3 separate regions of the Homo sapiens genome follow, and regions 2 and 3 are each linked to region 1. The links come from fine-mapping of genetic effects on gene expression. A gene starts in region 1. Each other region holds a variant in brackets. All regions are shown on one strand. Distances are between the middles of the regions.

What was found. PIP is the estimated chance that this variant, and not a neighbour inherited with it, causes the effect.
Region 2: its variant is the best candidate, but not a certain one, in a credible set for the expression of TELO2 in skin (TwinsUK, PIP 0.82).
Region 3: its variant is the best candidate, but not a certain one, in a credible set for the expression of TELO2 in nasal epithelium (TOPMed, PIP 0.75).

The regions. Positions count from the first base shown.
Region 1 is chr16:1,490,830-1,494,983 of GRCh38, forward strand. TELO2 (telomere maintenance 2) reads left to right here and starts at 2,531. Exons shown (of 21, transcript NM_016111.4): 1 at 2,531-2,776; 2 at 3,417-3,787. The coding sequence starts at 3,453. RefSeq lists enhancers at 2,189-2,238, 2,336-3,236, 4,138-4,154 and silencers at 2,449-2,538, 2,709-2,758, 2,769-2,968.
Region 2 is chr16:1,517,189-1,521,342 of GRCh38, forward strand. It overlaps IFT140 (intraflagellar transport 140), which reads right to left. Exons shown (of 31, transcript NM_014714.4): 27 at 3,414-3,620; 28 at 2,943-3,155; 29 at 2,693-2,859; 30 at 1,028-1,169. Among named protein-coding and RNA genes, the nearest start is that of TMEM204, 14 kb to the right of the region's middle. The variant T/C (reference allele first, on the strand shown) is at 2,216.
Region 3 is chr16:1,511,425-1,515,578 of GRCh38, forward strand. All of the region lies in intron 30 of IFT140 (intraflagellar transport 140), which reads right to left. Among named protein-coding and RNA genes, the nearest start is that of TELO2, 20 kb to the left of the region's middle. The variant T/C (reference allele first, on the strand shown) is at 2,280.

The DNA.
Region 1 (4,154 bases):
TCAGCCTAGCCAAAGTGCTGGGTTTACTGGCGTGAGCCACTGAGCCTGCCTGATTTCCATTTAAAGTTGTGGGTCGGGGCAGGGTGTGGTGGCTCTCTCCTGTAATCCCAGCACTTTGTGAGGTCAAGGTGGGCAGATCACTTGAGTCCAGGAGATCGAGACCAGGCTGGGCAACATGGCAAAACCCCGTCTCTACTAAAATTACAAAAATCAGCCAGACGTGGTGGTGTGCACCTGCAGTCCCAGCTACTTGGAAGGCTAAGGCGGGAGGATCGCCTGAGCCGGGGAGAAGGAGGTTGCAGTGAGCTGAAATCGCGCCACTACACTCCAGCCTGGGTGACAGAGCAAAGAATAAAGACATTTTCAGACACACAAAGGCTTGAGAAATTTGTCCTCCAAGCACCCACTGTTGGATGCGGGGCTTCAGGAAAAGAAGGGAATAGGGAAGGACGGAGCTGCCGTGGGCACTGGCGAGGGCTGGAACCCAGCAGCGGACGGAGGAGGAGTTTCCGGGATGATGGGATGCTGCCTGCCCCATATCCCATCCATCAGCTCTGCCTGCAGAGACATGCCCTGAGTTCAGCTGCTTCTCTACACCCCCATTCCGCCCCAAGCTCATCCTCACAATGGCCACCTAGTCCCCTCGTCCGTGTCGCCCCCCTACCGTCTGCTCTCCTAACTGCACCAGCATGGACCCGTGCCTTCAATGGCTCCAGGAGATGCCTGCCACACAAGCAAAATCTTAGTCCCTGCGAGGGCCTTCTGTGGCCTGGCCCACTGCCTCACTCCCTCCAGGCCTCACCCCTGCATATGCCTCCCTCGGCTCCACCTCCCGGGCAACAGTTGCGGCCTCAGGCCTTTGCACCTGCCGTTTTCCTGCCAGTGAGACTCTTCCCTGGCTGTCAACACATTCAGGGCTCTGCTCTAAGGTGTTCTGTTCAGAGCTCTCACCTTACGTAAGACAGCACCCACTGCTCTCTGGCTCTTTTCTTTTTTTTTTTTTTTGGAGGAGTCTCGCTCTGTCACCCAGGCTGGAGTTCAATGGCACAATCTCCACTCATTGCAACCTCTGCCTCCTGGGTTCAAGCAATTCTCCTGCCTCAGCCTCCCAAGTAGCTGGGATCACAGACACATGCCACCACGCCCAACTAATTTTTGTATTACTATTATTATTATTATTATTCTTTTTTTAGGAGAGACGGGGTTTCACCATGTTGGCCAGGCTGGTCTCGAACTCCTGAGCTTGTGACCCACCCGTCTCGGCCTCCCTAAGTGCTGGGATTAGAGGTGTGAACCACTGTGCCCGGCCACTGGCTCTTATTTTCTTACCCTACCGGTTTTTTATTTTGATTCCTTTTTTTTTTTTGAAACAGGGTCTTGCTCTGTTGTCCAGGCTGGAGTGCAGTGGCAGTGAACATGGCTCACTGCAGCCTCAACCTCCCGGGCTCAAGCCATCCTCCCACCTCAGCCTCCTGAGTAGCTGGGATCACAGGCTCATGACACCGTGCCTGGCTAATTTTTAAATTTTTTGTAGAGACAGGGTCTCACTATTTTTCCCATTCTTGAACTTCTGGGTGCAAACGATTCTCCCACCTCAGCTTCCCAGTGCTGGAATTACCGGCGTGAGCCACCGGGCCCGGCCTCTGCCAGTTTTTCTGCTCGAGGCCTGTCACCTGGCATATTTCGTATGTACTTTATCTGTTCCCCCGATAGGTGAGCAGGAACTTTGCATCATTTGTTGCTCAGAAGGCTTGGTGCACCAAGCAGGCATTTAATCAATGTTTGTTGAATGGATAACTGTTCCCCAGCTTTTCCCACATCCATCACTGCTGAAATGGCGCCTCTTTAGGTGTCTTCCTGGATTGCCCCCTCCACAAAGATGAAGCCCCCCACACTCCGCTGCGGTGTACAGAAGGCACTGCATGTTGTAAATGTTCAGTGTCCGGCTGTCCAGCCTGGCGGCCACAGCCAAAGGTAGTACCGAGCCCTTGAGATGGGGCTAGTGCTGCAAGGGAACTGGACTTATTTAACTTCAGTTAATTTACAGAGCCACATGCGTCTAGCGCTTACCCTACTGGTCGCAGTTTTTATTCCACGACCCGGCCTCATTTACGGAGCTGCAATTGTTCAGATCTGACATGATCTCAACTGCTCTTTTACTTCCTTGTGTACCGTGCGTTTCCCTTACTGGCCTCTGACCCTTGAAAGCAGAGCCTTACATCCGGGGAAGACGAGCCAGGCCTGTCTTGGTAAACATCTGCCTTAGAGCGAACGCTCGGCGTTCTGGAGAGAATGTGGGACCCGAGGCGGAGGGAAGAGACGGCTGACATCACTCCAGGGTAGGGACGACCGAGATGGGAGAAACTAAGGCGAGAACCCACCACCCGGGCGCAGCGAACCCAGCTCGCAGCCACGTGGGGAAGCGCGGCCCTGCCCTCAGGCCCCGCCCCACTCACGCGTCAGGCCCCGCCCACCCCACCGCCCCCCGCTCCCGCGTCCAGGCTCCGCCCCGTCCCCGCGCAGCGCAGGCGCAGATGCGCCCTCCCGCCTGGCGTCCTCCGCAGATTCGCGCTGAGAGGCCCGCGGAGACCCGCCCCAGAGGCTCAAGAAAACCCGCGGGAGCCTCGCCCGGACCCAGGAACTCGTGCTCGGGGCCAACCGGCTGGGCCGCGATCGCGTTTCGTCCGGGGCCGCGGCGGCCGTGGGGAATCGGCTGCAGCGAATCGGTGGCGCGCGGCGCCTGAGCGCGCTGCAGTCACCCGGGAGCCGGGTCCAGGTCGGGTTGGGGGTCGGGGATCGGGGATCGGGGGTCCGGTTGGGTCGGGTTGGGCTCCAGGTCTGGTTGGGTCGGGTCCAGGTCGGGTAGGAGTCCGGTCGGGGTCCGGGTACAGGTCGGGGTCCGGGCCTGGATCGGGGGCGGGTCCGCGTGCGGCTCCTCTAGCCCCGAACCCGTGTTCCCCGTAAGCTGTTGGTTTCTAAGGGGCGGAGGAATGGCGACTGGAGCCACCTCTCACCGCTCAGGGAGCCGGGAGGGCCGGCAGCTCCCGCGGGCCGAGTTTCCCGCCTTGGGTGCGAGGACGCGTGGGGCCGCGCTGTGCCCGGGGAACACTCACCAGCATCTCTAGCCTCCACCTCCCTCTCGCGCCAGTGGCACTCCCGGTTGAGACAACTGAGAATGTTCCCTGGGCACAGTGGCCCGGGTTGAGAAGCCCTGCAGTGGCTGGTAGCGTTGGGGTCCGAGCGGAGGAGCGAACTCTGGGTGGAAACCGGCAGGCACTGGAGGGGAAGGAGGCGGGACAGGGTTGGGTGGGACCAGGGTTGAGGGGTGTGGGGTCTCGGGGCGCTCACCGAGGGGCTTCCTGAGCTTGTGTGGATTATTTCCGTGCCCCAAGCTGAGCCCTGTGTCCATGTCACAGGTCGTCTTCCCGTGACGCCCAGATCTGTCCTGCAGGATGGAGCCAGCACCCTCAGAGGTTCGACTCGCCGTCCGGGAAGCCATTCATGCCCTCTCGTCTTCGGAGGATGGCGGCCACATCTTCTGCACCCTGGAGTCCCTGAAGCGGTATCTCGGTGAGATGGAGCCTCCAGCGCTCCCGAGGGAGAAGGAGGAGTTTGCCTCGGCCCACTTCTCGCCTGTCCTCAGATGTCTTGCCAGCAGGCTGAGCCCAGCCTGGCTGGAGCTGCTGCCCCATGGCCGCCTGGAGGAGCTGTGGGCCAGCTTCTTCCTGGAGGGCCCGGCGGACCAAGCCTTCCTGGTGTTGATGGAGACCATCGAGGGTGCTGCGGGGTGAGTGGGCTGGGCCCATCCTGGGGTTGCCGGTAGCCTCAGAAGTGATGAGAGTGGCTTGAAGGACTGGACCAAGAGCCTCTCTAGTCCCTGTGAGGGGCTAGAGAGAGAGCCTGCTCCTGGCTGAACCCCTGAACAGAAGAAGCGGTCTGTGTCTGTCTCCTTTGCGACGGGAGGCACCTGCTGTGTCTCACAAAGTCCCCCACTTGCTCCCCGTCCGGCTGTGTCAGAGAGGGATGGGGTGGGAGTGTTCACATCCCAGGCGGCAGAGGCAGCCCGTCAGCTGGGGACGTTCCAGGTTTTCCAGGGAAGCACAGCTGTCATCACTGACACGTGTCCCATGTGGACTCCCAGCCCCAGCCGGCTC
Region 2 (4,154 bases), 26 kb after region 1:
GTGAAACCCCATCTCTACAGGCATGCTGATGCACACCTGTAGTCCCAGCTACTTGGGAGGCTGAGGCAGGAGAATGGCGTGAACCCAGGAGGCGGAGCTTGCAGTGAGCCGAGATCGCGCCACTGCGCTCCAGCCTGGGCAACAGAGTGAGACTCCGTCTCCAAAAAAAAAAAAAAAAAGTACAATAATAAGAAAACCCAATAAAATGATGAGAAGAGACTTGAAGCCTTCACAGAAGGTGTGTAAATGGATAATAAGCACATGAGAAGGAGCTGCACATCACTACTCATCCAGAAAATGTGAATTTAAACCTCAGCAAGGTACTGTTCACCCCCTAGGATGGCTACAGTTCGAAAGAATGATCAAATGTTGGTGGGGATGAGGAAAACGCTAGAACACTGCGGCTGAATAAGTGATTAGCTGGTCACTTTAAAGTGACTACACGCTGTCTCTAAAATTAAAAAATAAGCGACTAAAAAATGGAACACCATTTTCTTTTTTTGTGAAAATCCCTGAAAAAGAAATCGTGGTTATTCAGACTCGGGTACATGCAGACATTTCTTCACAAATAAAGTAAGTCTGTCGCTTTCCTGCGACACTGCTAGTAACAGCCAGTAACAGCGTGAGACTGTTACTTTTTGCTACCGACAGATTTTTTTTTTCTTTTGAGACAGGGTCTCGCTCTGTCACCCAGGCTGGAGTGCAGTGGCGCCATCAGATCTCACTGCAGCCTCAACCTCCTGGGCTCAAGGGATCCTCCCACCTCAGCCTCCCAAGCAGCTGGGACCCCAGGTGTGAGCCACCATGCCTGGCTAATTTTTCCCCTTTTTGTAGAGATGGGGTTTCACCATGTCGCCCAGGCTGCTCTTGAACTCCTGGGCTCAAGTCATTCTCCTGCCTCAGCCTCCCAAAGTGCTGGGATTACAGGAGTGAGCCGCCACACACAGCCTCAGTTTGAGCCGTTAAGCCTTCGTTTCAGGAGCCTTGTGTGGCGGGATGCTGCTAGTGAGCAGCACTCAGGCCTCACCGTCTGGTATTCCTCCTTCCGCACGTAGTGCTCCACCAGGAAGCCATAGACGTCCCCGATGCGGATGGTGCTGTCCAGGTCTGGTTCCTCCAGGAGCAGCTCACACTGCTTGATGGACTCCTTGGGGTCCTCTGTGTACGTCCTGCCGAGAGCAGAGATGAGGCCTGGGCCCCGAAGCCCTGAACACCTACTGCTATCAGAGGTCAGAGGAGACTCTTGGCCTGTAAGAGGAGCTCTCCGGAATGGCAGGAGGAAACTTTCTATGAAGTTAAATTCATTAATTCCTTAATTTGTTCATTCATAAATTAACTCATCCATGTAACATTCTTACTGATCACTTGAATGCTGGGTCCTATGCTTGGACTGAAGACCAAAGACTTCCGACCCCTAGTTCCTGCTCTATGGAACAGTCCAGAGGGGGCTAGAAACCTCTGCACAAAGCGTGACCCAGAGGGGATGTGGTGCATGTGGACAGGGTACACGGAGAGGCGCACGGCACCCCTTGCCCAAGGCCGCTGGGAAGAACCCTCCAAGCAGAGAGGCTGCCCGCACACAGGCTGCGTGTGTGACCTGGCGTGAGGGTCTGTGGCAGAGCAGGGTGTGTGGCCTGTGAGCTGGGGTGACACCAGGGAGGTGAGCCTGCTGGAACACAACATGGTCCAGGGCAGGTGACTGGAGCCGTGTGGAGCTCAGGCTCCCATGTCAGGAGGGTCCAGGGCCCATCTGGCCACCCACTGACTCGGCCATTCCAGACAGGCGCCTGGCCTGCCCTCTGACCCCTGGCCCATAGAAGGTTGCCCACCCTGGCCCTCACACGTCGTCTCCCCTCCACCCACGTCCTGTGCTATCCCTGATGACCAGCTGCTATCGATTCTCCTCCGCTCCTGCCCTGTGGCCTCAGCTCAGCAGACATCTGTGAGACGCTGATACCCCAGAATCGACACGTGCAGGTGGACCGTGCCCTTCCAAGGGGCACCGCTTTGTACGACCTTGTTCAAAGGACTTCTGGAACTCTTGTTTTGGAAAAGGTTCTCCGATAAGGAAAACAGCCCTGCCAGCTGAGACAGAAGCTGGGCCCTGAAGCGCACAGGCGAGTGCCCACCGTGGTGGCCACACAGCAGCTCTCTGAAAAGCTGAGTCACCTGCCCATAATAAAGATGGGGAGGTGTTCAAATAAACTTAGCATCT[T/C]GGCCTCTCCTGAAAACCGAGACCATCGGCTGGCTGCCTGGGTCTCCTCTCCACAAGCTTGGAGCTGGTGGCAGTTGACCTGTGGAGAGGCATGAGCCCTCTGGTCACCATGGTCCCCCAACCCCAGGTCACACAGCGGCACTCACTCAGGACTCCCCTGCCCGGCCCCTGCACACCCTCAGCAGGTCTGTGGCTCCCCAGACACACCCTCTCCTGCTCCACATCTGCCTCCTCCTCCCACTCCCCCACCAGGTTTCTCTCTCAGCGTCTCTGGTGTTTCCAGAACACCTTCCCAAGGCTGTGCCCGGGCTCTGAGGGCTCCCAGGAGGAGGTGGGGTGTGTCTTCAGCAGTAGTGCTGTCCCAAGTGAGCTCCCATCTGCTGTCCTGCCCTTTTGCTGGCTGGGGTTTCTCGTGGTCAGCCCCGGCCCTGTAGTCACATCTGCCCTGGCCTGTCCCCGCTGGCCCCGGGGGCACACCTGCGGGCCTGGATGAACCTCTTCACCAGTGCCATCCTGCTCTGCAGCTGCGCCAGCCTGGTCTCCTGGTCCAGGGGGCTCTTGGCCTTGGCCTTGGCCAGGCACTTGTAGGCCTCGGTCAGCGCCCCGTGGGCTTTGTCGTAGTTCTGGTATTCATCAATCTCCACCTGTACAGATGAAACCCGTCAAGACCTGCCGGGCTCCACAGCCCTCCCCGGGGCCCCGCTGGCATGCCAGGGAGGGCCTGCACCTGGGCACAAGCGTCATAAAAGCCAGCCAGGAGGTCCAGGGCCCGCCCCTTGGTGTAGAAGCCGATGATGTTCTTCATGATCTCCGGCTCCTTCCGCCAGTCCAGGGACTGCAGGTAGTTAGCAGCCATGATGTAGATTTCCTTCTGCCTGGACACGCTCGCGAAGAACGTGATTTTCTCCGTGTCTCCGGATTTGAGCAGCGCCCTCATGGCCTAGGCAGAGAGACAGCGGGGCTCAGGCAAGCAGGGGCTGGGCCGGGACAAGCACAAGGGACCCCGAGCAGGAGCTCTCACAAGAAGAGTGGCTCAGGGCTGCCCGGTAGAGAGAGATCTTAGTGGTTGTGCTCTTCCTGGCCAGAAAGGCTCAGCCCTAGCTTGGGGTCATCACGAAGGCAAATGGAGATGCGTGCAGGGGGCCCGCAGCCTAACTGCCTGTGAGGTAGCCGCGGGCTGGGGCCGGGAGAGGCTCACCTTCAGCTTGTTGCCGGCCTGCGTGTACTTCTTGGTGGCCAGGTGGTAGCTGCCCTGGCGCATGCAGCAGTCTGCTATCTGCTCCAGCAGCTCCCGCCGCGACTCCTCAGGCAGGTCCGAGGAGTCCTTGGCCACGGTCATCTTTTCCGCCATCTCCTCGGTGATGCTCATGTTCTGCCCCAGGCACAGCTGCAGGGCTTCCTGATACTGCAAAGGTGCAGAAATGGGACGGGGCTGCCGAGGGGGCCGGGAACTGAAGTGCGCCCCTCATCTGCCACCGCTTCAGAGGAAACCAGGCCCCTCGGCTCAGCGGCGGCTTCTGTCTAGCTGGGGTGGGTATGGAGGGGACAAGGATGTCTCCCCTGCCTCACCAACCTACAATCATTCACGTTACTTTCTCACGCTGTTAACATTCCAGAATGGAACGAAGGAAACAATAGTCTCAAGTGATATATGCTCAAGAGAATATTACGTTTGGGAGAAAAGGAAATTGGTAATTTTCTTCTATAATTCTGAATTTTTAAAGTTAAATTTTTGAGACAGGGTCTCACTCTGTCCCCCAGGCTGGAGTGCAGTGGTGCAGTCACGGCAGCCTCCACCTCCCCAGGGTCAGGTGATCTTCCTACCTCAGTTTTTGTATTTTCAGTAGAGACGGGGTTTTGCAATGTTGCCCAGGCTGGTCTTGAACTCCTGGGCTCAAGCAATCCGCCTGCCTTAGCCTCCCAAAGTGCTGGGATTGCA
Region 3 (4,154 bases), 21 kb after region 1:
GTCCCTCAGCAGCTGTGCACAGGCCTGCTCACCGTGCGTGTGCGGGCAGAGCCTCCTGGGGAGGCAGAGGCCCCGCGTTCTGCACTCGAGTCTTGCGGGTGGACATGCATATGTCAGAGTGGAGGGCAGGCAGCGATATCTACTGGTTTGGCTTGGGTATTTTTTTTTTTTGAGATGGAGTCTCAGCTATGAAGATATAATAAGCTTGTTGGATGGCCCCTCCCATCACCTGGCAGTGGACCTGCGTTTAAGGAAGGCCTCAGCTGGGGTGGGCGCTGGTGGAGTGCAAGCCTTCCACACAGTCTCAAACGAGAGGCTGAGGGCAAACATCCACACCTGAAAAGATGCTGCCTTACATGCTGACAAACCACCTGCCATGTGCCAGGCGCTGTGCTGGGGACACAGGGGACACAGGACGTAAGGGCACAGAACAAGCTTGGGTAATGCTGTAGTGGGGAGCCAGGTCAGGCCGAGGTCCTGCAGTGGCAGAATTCAGAGAAGGGCTGGCACAGGGAGGGAGAGAGAGGAAGGAGCTGACCAGGGTCGAAGAGGGACCCTGTGGTCAGAAAGGGCCGGCGTCCTGATGCAACCAGGGCCTGGTGCGTGTGACTGCTCTGTGTGCAGAGCTAGCTTCGGAGAGGGCAATCAAGTGGTTTCCAGAAGGCAGGCAGAAGGTGCGGAGGGCGGGTGAGGGGTGGTGGGGGGCAGGACAGGCGGCATAGGTGGGTGAGGGGTGGTGGGGGGCAGGATGGGGGGCAGGACAGGCGGCATAGGTGGGTGGGGGGCAGGATGGGGGGCAGGACAGGCGGCGTAGGTGGGTGAGGGGCGGTGGAGGGCAGGACGTGGGGACAGAAATGTTGCCGGTCTCCAGCATCAGGAGGGTGTGTGCGGGCTGTGCTCAGATGATGGATGATGGCGGGAAAGCTGAGCGGATATAGGAGCTGTGGCCTGGGTGAGGTGGTGCACGTGACCCCGGGTGGCGCTACAGCAGCAGCCAGGGAGCGTGTGCCTGGGCATTCTCAGTTTAGCTGCGCTTCCCAGTTTCTTTTTTCTTTTGTATCTCGAGTTACTAAATTCCACAGGCTTCAAGCAACCATAGAGAGAATAAAGAAGTTGGCGAAATATTTAAAATGTGGATTTCCTGTTAATTTTGAGGATATAGCAGTCTGGGCATCTCTCTACTCCAATTTTGCTTTTATACGGAAAACTATAGTTCTCCTAGAAATAGAAACCCCGTTGGAGCAGGGCGCGGTGCTGCACACCAGCCACTCACGAGGATCCCTTGAACCCGGGAGGCTGAGGCTGCAGGGAGCTGTGATTGTGCCACCGCACTCCAGCCTGGGCGACAGAGCAAGACCTCGTCTCAAAACCAAACCAAGCAACAACAAAAAAGAAACCTTGTTAGGATTAGACTTGAGTTGTTTTTTCCAGCAGCAAAAGGGGTCAGTGAATGGAAGTGGAACGGCGCAGAGGGGAGTGAGCAACCGGGCCAGGAAGTCTGTGTCTCACGGAGCTGACCTTTCAGCCCTGAGGGAGAGCCACTGCCAAGGAGCTTTCCTGTGAATTCTGGAGGCTGCAGCCCAGCGAGCCCGACACGGTCGCCAGCATGTTTCCCAAGCTCATTTCTCGATACTCAGTTTGTGAGTCCCGGGAACTATCTAATAGGGCAACACAACTGGTGGGTGCAGAGGCCCTGCAGGCATCGGCATAGCTGCAGGGTCTGACGGATGCAGGCGCGTGCAATTCTCTATGTTGGCTACAACAGAATTATGGTTGAAAAAGAGGCCGGGCGCGGTGGCTCACGCCTGTAATCCCAGCACTTTGGGAGGCCGAGGTGGGCGGATCACGAGGTCAGGAGATCAAGACCATCCTGGCTAACACGGTGAAACCCCGTCTCTACTAAAAAATAAATAAATAAATACAAAAATTAGCTGGGCGTGGTGGCGGGAACCTGTAGTCCCAGCTACTTGGGAGGCTGAGGCAGGACAATTGCTTGAGCCCAGGAGGCGGAGGTTGCAGTGAGCCACGATCATGCCACTGCACTCCAGCTGGGCAACAGAGCAAGACTGTCTCAGAAAAGAAAAAAGAATGAGAAGAGAGGCTTCTGACAACAGCAGCACGACTCCTGTGAGAGCAGCCCTCCCCCTAATGACGACGGACACATGGAAAGGCACTGGGGGCAGCCGTGAGCAGGCTGATGCTGGGAGTGGGTGGCACTGGGCAGGCTTCCTGCTTCTCACAACTTTCTTTTTTTTTTTTTCTTTTTTGAGACGGAGTCT[T/C]GCTGTGTCGCCCAGGCTGGAGTGCAGTGGTGCGATCTCTGCTCACTGCAAGCTCCGCCTCCCGGGTTCACACCATTCTCCTGCCTCAGCCTCCCAAGTAGCTGGGACTACAGGCGCCCACCACCACACCCGGCTAATTTTTTGTATTTTTAGTAGAGACGGGGTTTCACCGTGTTAGCCAAGATGGTCTCCATCTCCTGACCTCATGATCTGCCCGCCTTGGCCTCCCAAAGTGCTGGGATTACAGGCGTGAGCCACTGCACCCGGCTGCTTCTCACAACTTTCTGCCTCAGGGTAGGCCCAAGTCAGGGCCAGTGTGGGCATCAGCCACCTCGAAGCCTGCCCTCTTCCAGGCTTAAAGAATCAGAATCAAGATTTTTGTTGGCCAGGTGCGGTACCTCACGCCTGTAATCCCAGCACTTTGGGAGGCCAAGGTGGGTGGATCACGAGGTCAGGAGATCGAGACCATCCTGGCTAACACGGTGAAACCCCGTCTCTACTAAAAATGCAAAAAAAATTAACTGGGCGTGGTGGCGGGCGCCTGTAGTCCCAGCTACTCGGGAGGCTGCAGCAGGAGAATGGCATGAACCAGGGAGGCGGAGCTTGCAGTGAGCCGAGATCACGCCACTGCACTCCAGCCTGGGCGATAGAGCGACACTCCATCTCAAATAAATAAATAAATAAATAAATAAAAGATTTTTGTTGACCACAGCAGCTGGAATGTGAAGGTGGAAACGTTGGGATGCAGCAGGCATAGAGGGGATCCCAAATCCTGAGCATATGCTGCCCTCGTCACTAGTTGCTCCCACACTACACATGAGGCAGGGGAGGTGCAGACTTTAAGCCAACTCACGCTACAAGCAGGGATTTCAGCTGCTATCCACCACAGGGGAAAGAGTTTCGGCTCTGAGCTGAGCAAAGGTGATTGCCTAATAAAATGAACCAAAAAAAAGCAATACTCTTTGGAGGAATGTAACAGAATCCAGAGTCTCTACAATGGATTATCCACAATGTCCATGATACAAAAAAATGACTAGACATAAGAAACAGGAAAATTTGACCCATACTCAAAAGGCAAGTAATGGAGATCAATCCTACATGACCCAGATATTGGAACCGGTAGCTAAGATTTTACAGCAGCAGTTACAACTCTGCTTTAGGATATAAATATAAAATATATTTTAAACAAATTAACAAATAGGGAATTTTAGCCAATAAATAATAAAAAGAACTAAGTGTAAATTCTAGGGCTGCAAAATACAAGCTCTAAAAAGATTGCTGGAGAGGTTAACAGCAGATTGAAGATAGCTAAAGAAAGTCTAGATAAATACAAATTAATCCAAAGGACAGAAAAAAAGAAAATAATGAGCAGTAATCACAAATGTGTGTCTACTAGATATGGAAGACCTAACATTTAATTGGAGTCCCAGAAGGAGAAAAAGAGCAAATTTCCCAAATTTGGCAAAACACAAATATAGATCCCAAAAGCCCAGGATAAATACAATGAAAACACCTAGGAACATCATTATCGCACTGCTGAAACACAAATTCAAGAAGAAAGTCATGACAGCAGCCAGTGCAGTGGGAGATGGAGAGACACATGACATGTAAGGGCCCCACAGACAGCCCATAGCTGACTCTTCCAGAAACAATGGAGGCCCAGACAGGGAAAACATTCAAGTGCTGAAAGGAAAAAAATCTGTCAAATCAGGATTTTTTTTGAATCAGGATCTTGCTTTGTCACCCAGGCTGGAGTGCAGTGGTGCTATCACAGCTCACTGCAGACTCAACCTCCTGGGCTCAAGCAGTCCTCCCACCTCAGCCTCCCAAGCAGCCAAGACTGCAGGTGCATGCCACCATGCCTTGCTATTTTTT